Linked DNA regions of Homo sapiens. The protein of the gene in region 4 purifies or fractionates together with the protein of the main gene of each other region. This does not show direct contact. Each region holds a gene or a part of one and is shown on either strand. Other genes may lie near its edges.

Region 1 (4,579 bases), on a different chromosome or scaffold from region 4:
GTGGGGAAGAATAAAGGAACTACCATGTTTTTAGTTCTTATATTTCATAGTGATTATAACTAATATAATTAGAAGATTAAAAAATATTAATACCTTTCTATATTTAGGTCATACTACTAGATATTACACTGGAACTTCAGAAGCAAATTATGTCTGAATTGGAAATTCTTTATAAGGTAATTTTTTCATAATTTTTATTTGTAAAGCATGCCTATGGTATTGACTTGCAGGTTTATAACTACTTTTGTCTTATTTTTGTTACAGTGCGATTCATCATATATCATTGGATTTTATGGAGCATTTTTTGTAGAAAACAGGATTTCAATATGTACAGAATTCATGGATGGTGAGTTTTCCCTTTTATAATACTTTTAAAATGATTTTTAGAGTATATAGTGCTTTAAAACCTGGTTTTGATATAGATATCAAATAGAATTAAAGATAATAAAATATGCTAATAATTACCTCATTTATACTCTAAGATTATTTCAGTGTTAGGGGTTCCTGGGGTTAAATATTTATAGCCGAACTGTAATTTTAAGAATTGAACTTCACTTTTATTGAAAATTTAAATAGAACAGATTAAATGCTAGTCTAATTGGTGGTTTGATATTTGATTCTTTTGCACAATCTGTCTTTACTTGCAAAACAGATGTTCTGTTCTTTTAATGTTTCAATAGCCAAAACAGATTTTCTTTTAAAGAAATCTATTAACCCAATGTCCTGTGTCTTTCAGAAAGAAATCGGTTCTTAATTGCAAGATAAGAAATTGTTTTTCAACACAGCTGTTTAGCCAAGATGTGTTTAATTTTCTTTGGACTTTAGCCCTTTCCTTCCCTCTCTATTTTTTTATTCATTTCTATTTTGGTAGTTCTTTCTTGACCTGAATATTACGGCAAAATACAGATTTCTAGGGACATATCAGTGAAATGATGTCATCATTATTATTATTTACCAATTTTAAATCTAAGCAGTCTTTAAATTTTACATATTCAGTTTTCCATAGTCTAGTCCATTAAAACACAACTTAAGAAAATATTGTTAGTTCCTTGTGGAGATTCTCAGTACATTACTAAAGCAATTAGTTTGTGCCCTGCAAAACTTTAATGAGCCAACATTGGTACCTTGATACTGTCATAAGGTGTACAACATGCTCTAAATTAGTTATAGTAGAATGTCAAAAATTAAAAATCTTACAGCCATATAGGTAAGTATGGTAACTGTGGAGACTGACCAGAAAAAGTGGATTCATTGAGCCAGTACATGTTACTGTGTTGTAACTTTTATCATTCTTTCTTTGAAGTCTTCAATTTTTCAGTTCTACTCAAACATTTTTGTTGAAACAGGGCACGGTGGTTCACGCATGTAATCCCAGCACTTTGGGAGACTAAGGTGGGAAGATTGCTTGAGCCCAGGAGTTTGAGACCAGCATAAGCAATATAGTGAGATCTCATCTTTACAAAAAAATTTTTAAAAATATGGCCGGGCACGGTGGCTTACTCCTGTAATCCTAGCACTTTGGGAGGCCGAGGCAAGCGGAGTTTGAGACCAGCCTAACCAACATGGCGAAAACCCGTCTCTATAGAAAATACAAAAATTAGCCAGGTGTGGTAGCGCATACCTGTAGTCTCAGCTACTTGGGAGGCTGAGACTGAGAATTGCTTGAACCTGGGAGGTGGAGGTTGCAGTGAACCAAGATCGCGCCACTGCACTCCACCCTGGGTGACAAAGTGAGACTCTGTCTTAAAAAAAATAAAAAAAGGAAAATTAGCTAAGCATGGTGGTACGGGCCTGTAGTCTCAGTTACTCTGGGGGCTGAGGTGGGAGGATTGCTTGAGCCCAGGAGATTAAGCCTGTAGTGAGCTGTGATCGTGCCACTGCACTCCAGTCTAGGCAACAGAGTGAGACCCTGTATCAAAAAACAAATAAATTAAAATTTTTTATTGAAATATAACTCAGATACCATAAAATTCACCCTTTAAAAGTGTACAATTCCATGGTTTTTGATATACTCACAAGGTTGTGTAGTCATCACCACTGTATAATTCCAAAACACTTTTTACCACCCCCAGAAAGAGACTTCCTACCTATTAGTACTCACTCTCTACTTTCTCTTTCCTCAAGTCCTTGGCAACCACTGATTTATCTTCTGTCTCTATGGATTTACCTATTCTGGACATTCCATATAAATGGAATCTGATAATATATGGCCTTTGTGTCTGGCTTCCTTTACTTAGTATAATGTTTTCAGTGTTCATCCATACTATTGCATATATGAGAACTTCATTCCTTTTTATTGCTGAATAACATTTCGTTGTATGGCTATACTACATTTTGTTTATTCTTTCATTAGTTGATGGACATTTGGGATAGTTCTACTTTATGCATAATTATGAATAATGCTACTCTATATATTTGTGTACAAGTTTTTGTGTGGACATACGTTTTCAGTTCTTTTTTTTTTTTTGAAACAGAGTCTCGCTCTGTCGCCTAGGCTGGAGTGCAGTGGGGTGATCTCGGCTCACTGCAACCTCCACTGCAACCTCCACCTCCTGGGTTCAAGCGATTCTCCTGCCTCAGCCTCCCGAGTAGCTGGGACTACAGGCGCGTGCCACCATGCCCAGCTAAGTTTTGTATTTTCAGTAGAGACAGAGTTTCACTGTGTTAGGATGGTCTCGATCTCCTGACCTCGTGATCTCCCCGCCTTGGCCTCCCGAGGTGCTGGGATTACAGGTGTGAGCCACTGCACCCGGTCAGTGTTTTCAGTTCTTTTGGGTATATACCTAGGAGTAAAGTTGCTAGGTCATATGGTAGCTTTATGTTTAACTTTTTAATAAACTACCAAACTTTTCCAATCTGTTTTACACCACTTTGCATTCATACCAGCACTGTATAAGGTTCCATTTTCTTCATATTTTTGCCAATACTTGTCATTTTGTGTCTTTTTAAAATTGTGGGCTTGTAGTGTGACATGGTATCCCATTTTGGTTTTGATTTAGGTTTCTCTAATGACTAATGATGTTGAGCATCTTTTCATGTGCTTATTGGCCATTTGTATACCTTCTTTTGAGAAATATGTTTTCAAATCCTTTGTCTATTTTTTAAATGAGTTATTGGGCTTTTATTGTTGAGTTGTGAGAATTCTTTATGTATTCTAATACTTGGCTCTTATCAGATATGGGATTTCCAAATATTTTCACTTATTGTTTATCTTTTCACTTTCTTTTTTCTTTTCTTTTCCTTTTTTTGAGCTGCGGTCTCATTATGTTGCCCAGGCTAGTTTTGAACTCCTGGGCTCAAGTGATCCTCCCACCTCAGCCTCAAGTTTTATTGTTTTAGCTTTTATATTTAAGCCTTTGATTTATTTTTGAGTTAATTTTTATATATGGTATGAGATAGGGGTCCAAATTTATTCGTTTGCATGTAGATATACATTTGTTCCAGTACCGTTTGTTAAAGACTGTTTTTCCCATTGAATTTTCTTGTTATACTTGTTGAAAATTGACCATAACATATATTTCTGTACTTTCAGATCAATGCGTATACATCTCGCATTGATCTAGTTGTCTATCTTTGTACCAGTACCACACCATATTTGATTACTTGTACTTGAAAACTCTGGATTATTATAGTTTTTAAGTTTCAAATCGAGAAGTGTAAGTGCTCCAACTTTGTTCTTTTCAAGATTGTTTTGGCCATTTTGAATACCTAGCATTTTCATTTGAATTTTAGAATCAGCTTGGCAATTTCTCCAAAAAAATCCAGCTGGGATTTTGATAAGAATTGAATTGAATTTTTAGATCAACTTGGGGAATATTGCTGTCTTAACATTATTTAATCTTCCACTCCGTGAACACAGATGTCTTTCAACTTACTTAGGTCTTCTTTAATTGTTTTTCAATGATTTAAAAATAATTTTTAGGGTATAAGTGGTAACTATTTGTTAAATTTGCTTCTAAGTTTTTTTAATGCTGTTTTTCTTAATTTCATTTTTGGATTGTTCATTGCCAGTGTATAGAACTGTAATTGATTTTTGTATATTGATCTTGTATTCTGCAACCTTGCTGAACTTGTTTACTAATGTTAATAGCTTTTTGTGGATTCCTTAGGGTTCTCTATATACAAGATAATGCCATCTGCAAATAGAGGTAGTTTTAGTGCTTTCTTTTCAATTCTGAATGTCTTTTATTTCCTTTTCTTGCTTAATTACCCTGGCTAGAACCTTCAGTACAATGTTGAATAGACTGATGAGAGCAGACATCCTTCTCTTGTTCCTGACCTTAGAGGGAGAGCTTTCAGTCTTTCACCATTAAATATGATGTTAGCCATGGGTTTGGAATAGTTGTCCTTTGTCAGGTTGAGGAAATTCCTTTCTATTTCTAGTTTGTTGAGTTTTTTTTTTTTTTAATTATGAAAGGGTATTAAATTTTGTCAAATGCCTGTTTTATATCTATTGAAATAATCGTGCATATTTGGTCCTTTATTCTATTAATATATGGTATACTATATTAATTGATTTTTGCAAAATGAACCAGTCTTGCAGTGTTGGAATTATTCCACTTAGTCATGATGTGTAATT
Region 2 (4,579 bases), on a different chromosome or scaffold from region 4:
CCAGATACTCGGGAAGCTGAGGTAGGATAATCGCTTGAACCCGGGAGGCAGAGTTTGCAGTGAGCCGAGATCGCGCCATTGCACTCCAGCCTGGGCGTCGCAGCAAGACTCCATCTCAGACAAACAGACAATCCAGCTGGGTTCAGTGTTGTGCACCTATAGTCCCAGCTCCTCAGGAGGCTGAGACAGGAGGATCACTCAGGCCCAGCTCCTCAGGAGGCTGAGACAGGAGGATCACTCGGGCCCAGCTCCTCAGGAGGCTGTGACAGGAGGATTGCTCGGGCCCAGCTCCTCAGGAGGCTGAGACGGGAGGATCACTCGGGCCCAGCTCTTCAGGAGGCTGTAACAGGAGGATCACTCAGGCCCAGGCAGGAGACTGAGAGAGGAGGATCACTCAGGCCCAGCTCCTCAGGAGGCTGTGACAGGAGGATCACTAGGGCCCAGCTCCTCAGGAGGCTGTGACAGGAGGATCACTCGGGCCCAGCTCCTCAGGAGGCTGTGACAGGAGGATCACTCGGGCCCAGCTCCTCAGGAGACTGAGACAGGAGGATCACTCGGGCCTAGGCAGGAGGCTGAGACAGTAGGATCCCTCGGTCCCAGGCAGGAGGCTGAGGCAGGAGGATCACTAGGAGCCTGAGGCAGGAGGATCACTCCGGCCCAGGAGTTCATGCTAGAGTGTGCTGTGATCACTCCTGTGGATAGCCATTGCCTGAGAAACACGGTGAGACCCCATCTCTTAAAAAAAAAAATCCATTCTCCCATTTCTTTGGATAATTTTGTATGTAATTGTATAATTACTTATCATTAGGAATCTTACATCTGTGGCTATGGGAATGGCAGTTCCTAGGTGTCCATTCTGGCTAAAGGATATTTTATAACTGACAAAAACTGCATAGTGGTTCCCCACTTGTTCCCACAGGTGCATAAGCTGGAGCCTGAGGCGTGGAAACACGTGGAAGCCGTATATATAGACATTGCAGATCGAAGCCAAGTGCTCAGCAAGGTAGGATCCGTTTAAAGACGTGGGTGGCCTTCGAGACGCAGAAATGACTTCTCAATGCTAAAGAAACCAGGAAACCATACCCAACTTGGCACAAAAGGAAATTCTGATGTGTCTTGCTTGTTTTATTTTTAAAAGTGAGTATTAGGAGATTTCTTGTCTTGAGTTGGGGATGCCACCAGAAAATTAGTGGCCCAAATTTGTGTGCCCTGTTTGGCCTCTGAAAATTATTACTGGACTAAGTAGGTATTGTAGCTAGAGTATTTTGCCCTGCTAAAATGATGCTTAGCCTGAAAAATCGGAGCACCACTTCTCAAATTTATTTTTCCAACTCAGTAATTAAAAAAACATTTACTTCCTGCCTACTGGGTTGTGGAATATTGTCAGGATCTCTGGGTTCCAGGTGAGGGATGCAGAATGCAGGGAAAGACAGGTCCCCTGCCCTCCAGAAGTCGGTGGCGCCTTTTCAGAGTAACACACACTGGAGCAGACCCCTGGAAAAGGACAGTCCACTGGTGGACCATGACCTTGGTCAAAAGAGGGACCAGGTCTGGCTTGCTCACTGTTTTGCACCCAAGAAGTATTTGCTCAGGGAATGAGGGGGTTAGATTCCTCCTCATTCATTACCATTCTTACTAGGCAGAGGCCTCATTGGGATTAAAAGACAGGAATGTAACTCTCTGCCCACTGATAGGGAATGTGTGTTTGCTCTTTGTATCCCAGGGGTGTGATACCTCTTTCCTGTGGTCACTCTGCACTTAAGATATTTTGGGGCCTGGCACGGTGGCTCACGCCTGTAGTTCCAACACTTTGGGAGGCCAAGGTGACCGATCATCTGAGGTCCTGAGTTCGAGACCATCCTGCCCAACATGGTGAAACCCCATCTCTACTAAAAATACAAAAATTAGCCAGGCCTGGTGGTACGTGCCTGTAATCCCAGCTACTTGGGAGGCTGAGGCAAGAGAATCGCTTGAACCCGGGAGGCAGAGGTTGCAGTGAGCAGAGATCACACCATCGCACTCCAGCCTGGGCGACACAGCGAGACTCCATCTCACACACACACACACACAAAGTTATTTTGATTTGTGCATTTCCGAAAAGATATAAAAACCATCTTGTGCTTCCTTGCCCAATATCCCAACCCCCACCTTCAAAACGTTGGTGGATTTTTCAAAAAGCTTTTTATGGAAGTTTAACATATACAGCAAAGTGAATATAAGTATGCAGCTTGATGAATTTTCTCAAACTGGATACTAGCAAAAAGTATGATTCTTTGAGTATTTTGTCAACTCTGGTTGATCTGTGTGAGTGGAGGGAAGCAGTGATGGTGAATATTTATTTTTTAAAGCACACATAAATATAATCTCCTCAGAGGCTGGGCACATTGGCTCACGCCTGTAATCCCAGCACTTTGGGAGACCGAGGCAGGCATATCACTTGAGGTCAGGAGTTTGAGACCAGCTTGGCCAACATGGTGAAACCCCGTCTCTACTAAAAATACAAAATTAGGGCCAGGTGCGGTGGCTCACACCTGTAATCCCGGCACTTTGGGACGCCAAGGTGGGCAGATCACGAGGTCAAGAGATCGAGACCATCCTGGCCAACATGGTGAAACCCTGTCTCTACTAAAAATACAACAGATTAGCCAGGCGTGGTGGCAGGTGCCTGTAATCCCAGCTACTTAGGAGACTGAGGCAGGAGAATCGCTTGAACCCAGGAGGCGGAGGTTGCAGTGAGCCGAGATCATGCCTTTGCACCAGCCTGGGCAAAAAGAGTGAAACTGTGTCAAAAAAAAAAAATACAAAATTAGCTGGGCGTGGTGGCGCATGCCTATAATTCCAGCTACTTGGGAGGCTGAGGCAGGAGGATCACTGGAACTCAGGAGGCGGAGGTTCCATTGAGCTGAGATTGTGCCACTGCACTTCATCCTGGGCGACAGAGCGAAACTCTATCTGAAAAAAAAAAAAAAAAAAAAAATCGGCCGGACATAGTGACTCATGCCTGTAATCCCAGCACTTTGGGAGGCTGAGGCATGTGGATCACCTGAGGTCAGGAGCTTGAGACCAGCCTGGCCAACATGGTGAAACCCCGTCTCTACAAAAATACAAAAATTACCCTGGCGTGGTCGCAGGCGCCTGTAATGCCAGCTACTCAGGAGGCTGAGGCAGGAGAATCGCTTGAACCCAGGAGGTGGAAGTTGCAGTGAGCTGAGATCGTGCCACTGCACTCCAGCCTGGCCAACAGAGTGAGATGCTGTCTCAAAAAAATAAAATAAAAAAATAAGGCAGGGCGCGGTGGCTCACGCCTGTAATCCCAGCACTGTGGGAGGCCAAGGTGGGCGGATCACGAGGTCAGGAGATCGAGACCATCCTGGCTAACACGGTGAAACCCCGTCTCTACTAAAAATACAAAAAAAATTAGCCGGGCATGGTGGCGGGCACCTGTCGTCCCAGTTGCTGGGGAGGCTGAGGCAGGAGAATGGCGTGAACTTGGGAGATGGAGCTTGCAGTGAGCCGAGATCGCGCTACTGCACTCCAGCCTGGCCAACAGAGCGAGACTCCCTCTCAAAAAAAAAAGAAAAAAAAAAAAAACTTCTCAGCTTTGGGAAATACTTTATGAGAGAGAGAAATTTATTATCTTTGTTATTTTTGTTAAGTAGATGCTATAAGTTTGTATCTCCTGAGCCCACATTAGTCAATGTAGAGGGACAGCTGAAAATTAAACTTTTGTTGTGGTTAATTAACACAGGAAATTGACTGCATTATAAATCTGTGAAGTGAGACTCACCAGTAGTGGATAGGTTCCATACACTGAACATTTCCAGTAATGATTTTGTTAAAACAAGCCAGAGGGAGATTGCACTGGAAGATTTAAGGAATGACAGCCGGGTATTCTGAGCGCTGGCTGTATTTTAGAGTCACTTGCAGAGATTTAAAAAAACAAAAAACAAATCTGTGCTGCCGTCACCTGCAGATATTCTCAGTCACTGGGTTTTAGTTGGAGTGACTCAAAAATCTGTGTTTTAAAAAGGTCTTCCCTGGTGATCTGGATGCTCACCCCAGGTTGAAAGTCTCTGTCTTCAACACGGTAAATATGTGCCTGCTCAGACAGTCTGGTGATACTTTCACACTGGCAAAATGGAAAACAAACCCTATCGGAGAAAATCACATAGAACTCTCCTCTGAGGCTAATGTAAACAGTTCTACATCTTGTTTATAACATTTTCCCATATTTGCTTTGTGCCATCAGCATCAAGATCTGGTATGGAGTGAATGCTAATGAAAGATCTGTTCTCCCCATCTCTCACTCCCTCTCCCACTCCCCTCCAACCCCAATTCCACAATTTCTCTCAGGATTACAAGGCAGAGGAAGACCCAGCAAAATTTAAATCTATCAAAACAGGCCGAGGACCCTTGGGCCCCAATTGGAAGGTACCATTCACACCTTCACTGCCAGGGGGCTGGGCAGCATGTGGGTGGGCCGCTCCCTGTGGAGGAGGGGCATGGCTGGGGTGAGCTGGGGACGGCCTGAGGTCTGCCCGTTGTTACTTGCGTACCCATGGGTATGTTTCTAATGCAG
Region 3 (4,579 bases), on a different chromosome or scaffold from region 4:
TGCTGTTTATTAGCACCCTTTGTGGCCAAGGGAAATAAAAGGTGGTAAAATTCAGTTTTCAGTTTAGTTCTTGAAAGCTCTGGGAAATGGAGGAAACACAAAACTATGAATTAAACTAGGGCTGTTGATTTCTGAACCCCCAGATAAATCAGTTGACCCACATTTTCATTTTAGGTGTTAGGTCCAAATTAGCATAATGTCTTGCATTATTATTAGGTTCAGTGTGAAACTTTACAGTGCTGCATTTGAAGTTTAGTAACTGGTTATTATTAATCATTTGGGAAAAATGAAAATGTGTTGGGACTTTCTATGACTAGGCATTTGTTGATTATTTTTCATGATTGCTTTTTGTTTTCTCATTGTGTAGGATTTGTGAACTTGTATATTACAGGAAACAAGATACTTTGTAAAATTTACTGGGGAAAATCCATTTGGAGTGCATGACATTTGCCAGGATAAGAAAGCAGTAATATGTTTGTATTATAAAATTACACCCTGCCAGAAAACTTTCTTTCCTAGTAAGGTAAATGTAGAAGGGACTTTTACAGCATAGTAAGTTGATTAGGAGCCAAAATTTTATTCCAGTTTTTTTTTGAACTAAGAATGTTTTAAATTCTGTAATGAACTTTTATGTTTACCCATTACTCATGCATTCTTTCACAATATGTTTAATAGCCTGAGGAAATAGGAAAGCTGTGAAGCTACTACCATTCTTTACTTTTAATAAGAATAATAGGAAAGAAAAGTCAGGTCAGTAATCCAAATCCAAATATGTATACTGCAAATGCTCAAGAAGTCACATTTTTTGATAAATTGTATTGAGTACAGAAGAACTTATATGAATTTATTATCTGTTAATAACTTAGTTTTGACAACAGAATAACATTTGGAAATTGTGAGAATAATCAAGCTGTTTTTCCATTAACAGTGTAAATTCATAACATGTCCTTCAAAAGGTGATATTCTAAGCTGTCTTAATTGTCTACGGTTGATAACTTTTAAATAAAGTACAGGACTTTCTGAAAGTGTTTGGCATGTTATGCTGCCAAAAACAATCTGTGTTTTGAAATACCAATTAATCAGTTAATTTCTGAAGACTTTGTATAGGACTTGATATATGAGTCAGAATCTGTCTGTACTCATTCTGTACATTGTAACTTTGAACACTTATGAAAAACTGTATCTGTTGGTGTGTTTTGATTAGTTAGTGTAGATTTGTTTGCGTATTTGAATTCCGATTTTAGTTTAGGAAGACTAAAAGTAGCCATTTTTGTAAAGTTCATATGCTATTTTTTAATGTCATTTTTGTTTTTAATATTTATACAATAGTGATGTTACTAGTAAAAAATGTTTATAGATAACACGTAGAGCTATTAACTGTTCAAAAGCCTACATGATAGGCATATTTTGTATTTCGTGTTGCACTCGTTCTGTTTCATATTGGACTTTTTACATCCCTTTTTTAGCAAAAAAAAGAGACACATTTGAATTCTCTTTAGCATAAAGCTGTGCATTGGAAACTATGTGACTGTATCCATACGGTTAGCAAAATACTCTTTGCCACCAAAGGTAAATGAAACTGTAAAATACCTCTGGATATTTGTGCCAATGAACTTTTCTTAGCATATTAGGATTAAAGCAAAAATAATCTTTTCAGTATGTTTCATCTAGGACTTACAATAAATGTTTAAACCATGAAAACTTATATTTCATACCCTAATTTTTCTTTGAAAATATTCAAGATTTGTAGCCTAGTGTGTTCTATTTTGTGTGATTGCTTGAATGTTTTCTGATTTTATTGGGTAAAAGTTTGCCTAGTAATGATCTTTCAGCAATTCATTGAAATAATTATTTGAAGTAATCTTGCTTCAGATTTAATTTGTGATGTACATTGTTGTACAAGCCATTTTAGTACAGGTGTCTCATTTATGTAGTTGAAAGGTGACTGTGGAATTTCTTTTGTTTTTTATGTATTTCCATTCAGTCTCTTTATATAGTCACATGTTTCACAGGGGAACTTGTCCACTGGAACCTAACATAGTACAACCTTTTAATATGCGTATCTTAAAGGAAAATATTATAAAACAAGATATTAATACTAAAGTGTTAACATTAATATGTTGTTCTCATGGAAGAAAAGTAGAAAATGTGATAGGCTTAGAAATTATTTTTTATCAGCATTAAGTGCTTCAATTTCTCCCCATAAAGATTCTAAGGAAATTTCAGTTCCTCATATTATAGTTTTCCCCATAATTTAATATTACTAAGTATTTCTCTGCCCAGTAATGTTGATGCAGTTTGCATAAATAGCCTTGGAAGTAAGGAGGCAGGACAGAAAGCCAAATATCGAAATCTCTGGCCTTGATTTAGTGACAGTTTATTCTAATGGGGACCATAGGTGTTATTAGTAAAAAGATAGTGTACAAGGCCTAAGTTCAGTTTACATTGTTCTTTGAAATGAGTTCATCTTTTGTGTTGAATAATTGTATTCTAAGTAGGAGATGCCTGTATTTAACATAATCATGCTTTCTATATAATCAAATATGTATTTGTTGGAATACTGGTAGAAATAACCTTCCCTTCCTCCACTGTGCAGTGGAAAAAAAACTCCCGATTTATACTGTATATAAATTAGGAAATTATGTTACATATTTACATTTTTAAAAATATAAAAATGACATATTATTTTGAAGTGATTGTATTATAGTTTCTGAAGCTTATGACTGGCTATAAATATAACAACATACCCATGAGAAACCAGACCAAAATTGAATATATATCATCACTGTGACCTTGAACTTATAGTCATTTGGGATAAAACAGAGTGTGCCTTGAAATGATAAAGAGTGCCCTGCAATTTTATAACTGTACATTTTATTATGGGTGGTCCTCTCAAATTGGCCCCAAATCCTTGTCTTCGAGGTTGGTGAAATAAAAGTTTAAAATAAAAGTTGACTGGTATTTCCTTTAGTATTTCCAGAACTATTGCTGTAGAGGCCTCCCTTAATTTTCAGAGTTCTCATTTTGAATTAAAGTAGACTTACGCTACATAGATGTAGAAAATTAGGTTTGGCTTAGGTTTCTGAAAAAATATTCTAGGAGAAGGTGGTAGCATTGTTCTGAACTTACCACACTTGGAAAAACTAATCTTCAAATGTAATTTTTTGTCTTATTAATGAGTAATCTGTCAAAGACATGAATTCTTTGACTTGTGCTCATTCTTTCTGAACTTATTGAGGCTTATATATATCAAATAAGGTTAATTTACACAATAATTATTTTTAATAATTAATAAACTCATTCATGTAGTATATTTTAAAACATTATTTCCTCTCATTTTTCCTTCTCTTTTTTCTTCCTATATATTTTTAAGGCTTCAAGAGAAAACGGGCTTCAGTTTTTAAAAAAATGTAGACTTGCATTTTTACTGTGCTTATTTAAAATAATGGATATAATTTATATTAAGGTCCAAATTATTTTATTCACAGGATAATCATGGTCTCTGATAAAAGATGCCCACATTTCTGTGTACTCACAGTTGTTGTATATTTTTCAATTTCAATTTTGAAAGTAAACTCAACACATTGTTTTCCCATTTTACCTCCACTACCTACTCGCCAGACAAAAATATAGATTTCTCTAAAAACACATACAAAGAAAATGTCTTTCCTTAAAACATGATCTTATTGACATGAAGGTAGTTTGAGCAAGGGTATGTAATAAAATAAATGGCTCTCAACCTGCATCAATTTTTATACTATAGTTAAAAAATTTATAGAGGACAACCTATGTGTTATGCTGAGATAGACTCAGTAATCATTTGTTTGCAAATTGATTATTTTTTTCTCATCCATCCAGAAAGTACAGTGCATAACAACAACACTTAACAAGTGCAGAGGAACCTGTCCTGTAGTATATAATAAAAAATGATTGTCACCTTGCTGATCTTTCCATTTAAACATGCATGATCTCCAGTACTTTGTACAATGTATAGTATATTAAATACATTTATGTGTAATTTTGTGTGTATTTTTATATGGTATAATTAAAATTATTACATTTATGTGATTGTAATTCACAAAAAGTACTACTTACTATATTCTGTAGAGTGTGTTGTGAATGTTTTTACCTGTGTTTGAGCATTATGGTGTAGGTTTAATAGATGAATATTTGCCTTCAGTCTCTGCTCAGGTATTAATGTGTAGTAATTTTTGGTGCTTTCTTTTTAATCTGTGATAATCTGGTGTTCTGAATGTTCAAAAATAAATTTGGTTGAATACGCACATGGTAAAAAGATTGCTTACCAATTGACATACTCTCTATAATACCATCTTGGTAAAAACTCTTTAAAAAGGATTTATTGGCCGGGCGTGGTGGTTTATGCCTGTAATCCCAGCACTTTGGGAGGCCAAGGCGGGCAGATCACGAGGTCAGGAGATTGAGACCATCCCGGCTAACACGGTGAAACCCCGTCTCTACTAAAAAAAAAAAAAAAAAAAAAAAAAAAAAAATTAGCCAGGCATGGTAGCGGGTGCCTGTAGTCCCAGCTACACAGGAGGCTGAGGCGGGGTAATGGCGT
Region 4 (5,658 bases):
TGGCAGATCTGCTGCTCATCCTTGGGACCTCCCTGGAGGTTTGTCAGCAGGCCTGTGCAGGGAGGAGGCTGGAGGGCAGGGGAAGGGAGGGGTACAGGAGTCATCTCATGGGCTGTCGGCAGGCCTGTGCAGGGAGGAGTCTGGAGGGCAGGGGAAGGGAGGGGTACAGGAGTCACCTCATGGGCTGTCGGCAGGCCTGTGCAGGGAGGAGGCTGGAGGGCAGGGGAAGGGAGGGGTACAGGAGTCATCTCATGGGCTGTCGGCAGGCCTGTGCAGGGAGGAGGCTGGAGGGCAGGGGAAGGGAGGGGTACAGGAGTCATCTCATGGGCCCTTCCAGGGCTGGTGCCACTTTGGGAAGGTGAATGGATTCAGCTGGGGTTCCAGGCTGAGGGAGCAGCAGCCTGTGCAGGAGACAGGAAGGTGGGAAGCTGCTGGGCTTTGGAGGTGGTATAGGTGTGGGTGGGGCACCACGTGTGAGGAGAAGGGAGAAGGATGGGGGTGTGGGGGCGAGGTGGAGGGGCAGGGCCTCCCAGGTCAGATCAGGAATACTGATGCTGCAGTGGGAGGAGTGATAAATCCACAGGGACTGGCCCGGGGACGTAGCTGCACCCTTGGGGTCAGGGAGGCCTTTGGGGAGTGGAGAGTGGAGCAAGCAGTGCCAGGAGGCTGGTCCTGGAGAAGGTGGAGCTGTGGTCGCCTGAGGGATGGCGAGGAGGGGGACTGGACTCGCAGTCTGTGATGTTTTGGGGACGTGAGAAGGAGGCGTCTGGCTTGGTCTGTAAGGTCAGGGCACTTGCTGGTGAGGCGTGATTTGGGAGGGAGGATGCCCAGCTCGGTTCTGTGTGTGTCTGAGGTGTCGGGAAACATGCCCTGGATGTGTTCAAGCAGCTGTTCTGCGTCTGCGTCTGCAGCTCAGGAAATTCCTAAAAGCTGTGATGAGAGCAAGAAATGAGACCATGAAGTCAGTGTGTGCGTGACTGGATGTAGGCACCGAGGACAGAAGGGCCAGAAAGACCTGTGCTCAGAGGGGCCCAGGGCAGCCACAGGGGCCCAGAGCATGTGTTTGTTCAGGCATTCATTGTGTGCTGGGCCCTGCTCCAGTGCTTTGGACATACACGGTCAGATGTCAGTGTAAGAAGTTATATAGTTTGTTAGGAGATGATTGATGTTATGAGAAAGATAACAAGTAGGATAGAAAGGCTAGAAGGGTTGGGAACCAGCTGCAGTGTCAAGTCAGGCAGGTGGAGTTGGATCTAAGAGTTTACCGAGGTGAGGAGGGTCTGGCAGGGGACACTGCACAGGTGACAAGCAGCAAGGAGGGTGGGGCGAAGTCAGCATTGATGGCCACGGGGCTGGAGCAGAGAAGAAGGTGGGGCACAAGTGTCATCTCATGGGAGGCTGGCGCCACCTCAGAAGGTGAATGGGTTCAGCTTGGGTTCCAGGCCAGAGTCTGAAGTTGAGAGGACTCCGTTGGGTGCTGGGCTGTGAGCCCACCATGGGGGCAAGACTGGGAGCAGCAGACCCAGCAGGGCCCTTGTAGGTAATCACCGGCTGGCACTGGCTGGGGGCCAGGTAAAGCCAGCAGAGGCTGAGGGGTGCTGGAGTCTGGGTGTGTGTGAACGCAGAGTGGGTACGCTGGCACAGTGCATGGGAGGCCGTGGATTCCCAAGGACCCCAGGGCTGTGGCTGGAGCAGCTGGAAAGACGGAGCCGCCGCTTCCTGAGATGGAGAAGCCTGGTAGGTGGGTTTGGGGGAGCTCAGGAACTCAGCCTTGTTTCCACGGATTTGAGGATGTGCTGCGGACTGGAGGTGTTGAGCAGGTGGACATGAGTCTGGAGTCCAGGAAGGCCCAGAGGCAGGAGCTGGGGTGCTGGAGTGAGCAGACAGGAGAGCCCAGGGTGTGGACAGACATGAGAATGCCATGCTAGGCCTAGGATGGAGGGACAGACACAGGAGGAGCAGTCAGAGGGGCCATGGTGGTCAGCACAGTGTGGGCTGAGACCAGCTGACCGTGCTGGCCACCAGGTGTGGACACTTGGGCCACCAGCCATCTTTATTGTTGAAGTGAAATGAAAATGGCCTTTTTCCTGATTATAAGTGTATCATGTGTGTCTTTGAAAAGATTCGTACATTATATAAAGATATAAAGCAAAGGATCAACTTTTTAATCCCACCAACTGTTAGCATTTTATTCTGTGTCCTCTCAGCTTTCTTTTTTTTGTACAAATGCATACGTACAGATGGTAATTTTAAACTAAAAGTTGGACAGCACTGTACATTCTATTCTGCAGCCTGCTGTTTTCACGTAACAATGTGAGTCCATGGAGATGTGCTGCGTTGTTAATGCCAACAGTTTCCCTTACACGGATATGAGGTCCCAACTGAGAAACCCATGTCTGTAAGGCTGGTGCCATCATGAACTGAATGAGCTGGTGTCACGCACAGACTCTATCTCATGTGCTTTGTGGACGAAATGTTAATGTGTTTGACTGTGGAGTACCACTCCAGATCCCCTTTAGGTGTGACATAACGTGGGATGTAAACCATATGATCTTTTCTAAAATCTCAAAAATTCTGAAACATATTCAGCCACAAGAGCTTTAACATAGATTTTGTGGATTTAATACAAAATTTATGTAAGCAATTTCTTACTGATGGACAATGATAATAAATAGTATATAATTTTTACATTAAAAGTAATGCTGGGCCAGGCACCGTGGCTCACACCTGTTATCCCAGCACTCTGGGAGGCCAAGGCAGGAAGATTGCCTGAAGCTAGGCATTTGAGACCAGCCTGGGCAGTATAGTCAGACCTCGTCTCTACAAAAAATAAAAAGATAGCCAGGCATGGTCTGTGTAGTTGCAGCTATTTGAGAGGCTGAGGAAGGAGGATTGCTTGAGCCCAGGAATTTGAGGTTATAGTGAACTATGATCATGCCACTGCATTCCAGCCTGGGTAACAGAATGAGATCCCGTGCTGTAGTGAATATCCCTGTGTATCATCCTTATCTACTCATGCAAGTACTCCTGAAGGGTAAATGCTGTAGTGAATATCCCTGTGTATCATCCTTATCTACCCATGCAAGTACTCTGGAAGGGTAAATGCTGATAAATACTGAGAACTTGCCTTCCGGTGAATATCCCTGTGTGTCATCCTTATCTACCCATGCAAGTACTCCTGAAGGGTAAATGCTGTAGTGAATATCCCTGTGTATCATCCTTATCTACCCATGCAAGTACTCTGGAAGGGTAAATGCTGATAAATACTGAGAACTTGCCTTCCGGTGAATATCCCTGTGTGTCATCCTTATCTACCCATGCAAGTACTCCTGAAGGGTAAATGCTGTGGTGAATATCCCTGTGTATCATCCTTATCTACCCATGCAAGAACTCCTGAAGGGTAAATGCTGATAAATATTGAGAACTTGCCTTCCAGAAAGATGTAACAATTACACTGCCACAAACTGTGTTTTTATGTAGCCATTTTATCACATCCTCACCAAAACCAAAATCACACAAATCAAATTGGTTAAAAAATGCATGTGTGTGTGTGGAGGGGGGTGCGGATTTTGCCTTTCTGTAGTAAAGAATGAAGTTCATCTTTTCATGTTTATTGCCAGTTGTGTTTCTTCTCTTTGGATTGTATATTTGTACCTCTTGACCATTTTTCATTGGGTCATTATAAATTAGCAATATAAATTAGTTTTAATTTTAGTATAAATTAAATAATATAATTACATTTTAATGTTAATATAAACTTCTTTCTTTTTTTTTTTTTTTTTTTTGAGACAGAGTCTTGCTCTGTCTCCCAGGCTGGAGGTTCAGTGGCGCGATCTCGGCTCACTGCAACCTCCACCTCCCAGGCTCAAGCCATTCTCCTGCCTCAACCTCCCGAGTAGCTCGGATTATAGGTGCGTGCCACCACGCCCAGCTAAGTTTTGTATTTTTAGTAGAGACGTGGTTTCACTATGTTGGCCAGGCTGGTCTTGAACTCCTGACCTCAGCTGATCTGCCCGCCTCGGCCTCCCAAAGTGCTGGGATTATAGGTGTGAACCACCATGCCCAGCTGTTAATATAAATTTCATTATAAATTAGCATTATAAATTAGTTCATAAATTATATGTTTATAAATGAGTTTATCAATTAGCAATATAAACTATTGTCATATGTTGTAAATATTTTTGCAGTTTATGATGATGAGAGGTTTTTAAAAATTTTAAATTTTCTACATAGTAGTTTTATGTAGATACCGAGATAATAGTATTTACATAGTCAGATCTGTCATTTTCCTTTGCCTTATCTGACTTCAGTTTTTACGCCTAGAACGTTCTTCCCTATCCTTACTTGTAAATCCTTAGTTTTCTTCAAGAACTGTTTTGTTTACATTGAAACCTTTAATCCATTTGAATTTTTTTCAGTGGGAGGTAGGAATGGAGTATTTTCCTCCCAGATAATGAGCCAGTTTTAATGCCATTTATTAATGTATCCATTTTTTTACCTTGTTCCTCTTAAAAGAAGCTTTGAGAGCTGTATGAAGAAGCCTGATGGCACCGAGCTAGGCCTCTCTAGAGGCTGGGTGGGGAAGACCATGGAGAGACGTAACAGTAACTCCTGCTCGGGGGCACCAGCTCGTCTGGGTGCCCGATGCTGGTGGTGGCTGTCAGAGCAAGCAGGGCTAGCCAGAGGAGATGGACGAGTCTGTGCTGTTGTCCCTCTGCGTCATGCTGGGAGACAGCGAGGTGGGGAGGACAGGGAGAACAGAACGTGCTCACAAAGAGGAGGCAGGAAGGTTGGATCCCTGATGAGCCTTGGAACGGAGGTGGGGAAAAGCAAGGATGTGTGGAAACAGCAAGAAGTGGGAGAGAGAGAGAGAGGCGGAGGGGAGAAAACCGTCACGGAGGCCAAGCGGCAGGAGCTCAGCTGAAGAAATGAGATTGGTGGTGGGTTTTCCCTATATCGCAGGCTCTGACTGCCAATCTGCTGCTCCTCCAAGGCCTCGGTGGCTGTGGCATGAAACATCCTGAGGAGCTTGTAAAGTGGACACTGTGCCCCTCACGTTTGGCCCATTTTTCAGGTGGAGCCTTTTGCCAGCTTGACCGAGGCCGTGCGGAGCTCAGTTCCCCGACTGCTCATCAACCGGGACTTGGTGGGGCCCTTGGCTTGGCATCCTCGCAGCAGGGACGTGGCCCAGCTGGGGGACGTGGTTCACGGCGTGGAAAGCCTAGTGGAGCTTCTGGGCTGGACAGAAGAGATGCGGGACCTTGTGCAGCGGGAAACTGGGAAGGTACAGACTGCTGAGGAGGACCATCCAAGGGGCTGCCCTTCTCACTGCTCTAGGGTATGGTCCACCTGATATGGAGCCCCGTTGGTTAACACAGTAACAGTAATAGCTGATGATGCTGTGAATCCTGCACCAGGCACTACCTGGACCTGACTGGGTGTTACTTTCAATACCTCCATTTAGAGATGAGGAAACAGATGCTAACAGGCCAAGCAGGGACACGGTCCAGACACTCAGGGCTGATGAGTCTGTATTCTTAACAGACTATAGGCGTTACCTTCACTCCCTAAAATAAAGCAGCCAACAGTGTCCCTCTAAGGCCTGGTATGTGATTCTAAGATGATACGGGTTAAAGAACTTTGAGAAGCTAAAGTTCT

Evidence for each region. Proteins that work in one complex are often made in the same cells at the same time.
Region 1: the proteins of SIRT3 (region 4) and MAP2K5 purify together in Homo sapiens (pull-down; one study listed by IntAct). This does not show direct contact.
Region 2: the proteins of SIRT3 (region 4) and PITPNA purify together in Homo sapiens (pull-down; one study listed by IntAct). This does not show direct contact.
Region 3: the proteins of SIRT3 (region 4) and PGAP1 purify together in Homo sapiens (affinity purification with mass spectrometry; one study listed by BioGRID and IntAct). This does not show direct contact.

The regions. Positions count from the first base shown.
Region 1 is NC_000015.10:67,646,124-67,650,702, forward strand, and holds part of MAP2K5 (dual specificity mitogen-activated protein kinase kinase 5), read left to right. Parts: intron 1-107; coding exon 108-176; intron 177-264; coding exon 265-346; intron 347-4,579. UniProt on the Homo sapiens protein: Acts as a scaffold for the formation of a ternary MAP3K2/MAP3K3-MAP3K5-MAPK7 signaling complex.
Region 2 is NC_000017.11:1,535,293-1,539,871, reverse strand, and holds part of PITPNA (phosphatidylinositol transfer protein alpha isoform), read left to right. Parts: intron 1-919; coding exon 920-1,003; intron 1,004-4,353; coding exon 4,354-4,431; intron 4,432-4,579. UniProt on the Homo sapiens protein: Catalyzes the transfer of phosphatidylinositol (PI) and phosphatidylcholine (PC) between membranes. Shows a preference for PI and PC containing shorter saturated or monosaturated acyl chains at the sn-1 and sn-2 positions.
Region 3 is NC_000002.12:196,832,708-196,837,286, reverse strand, and holds the end of PGAP1 (GPI inositol-deacylase), read left to right. Parts: 3' UTR 1-4,283; downstream 4,284-4,579.
Region 4 is NC_000011.10:218,458-224,115, reverse strand, and holds part of SIRT3 (NAD-dependent protein deacetylase sirtuin-3, mitochondrial), read left to right. Parts: coding exon 1-38; intron 39-4,515; exon of another isoform or gene 4,516-5,074; coding exon 5,075-5,284; coding exon of another isoform or gene 5,285-5,338; intron 5,339-5,658.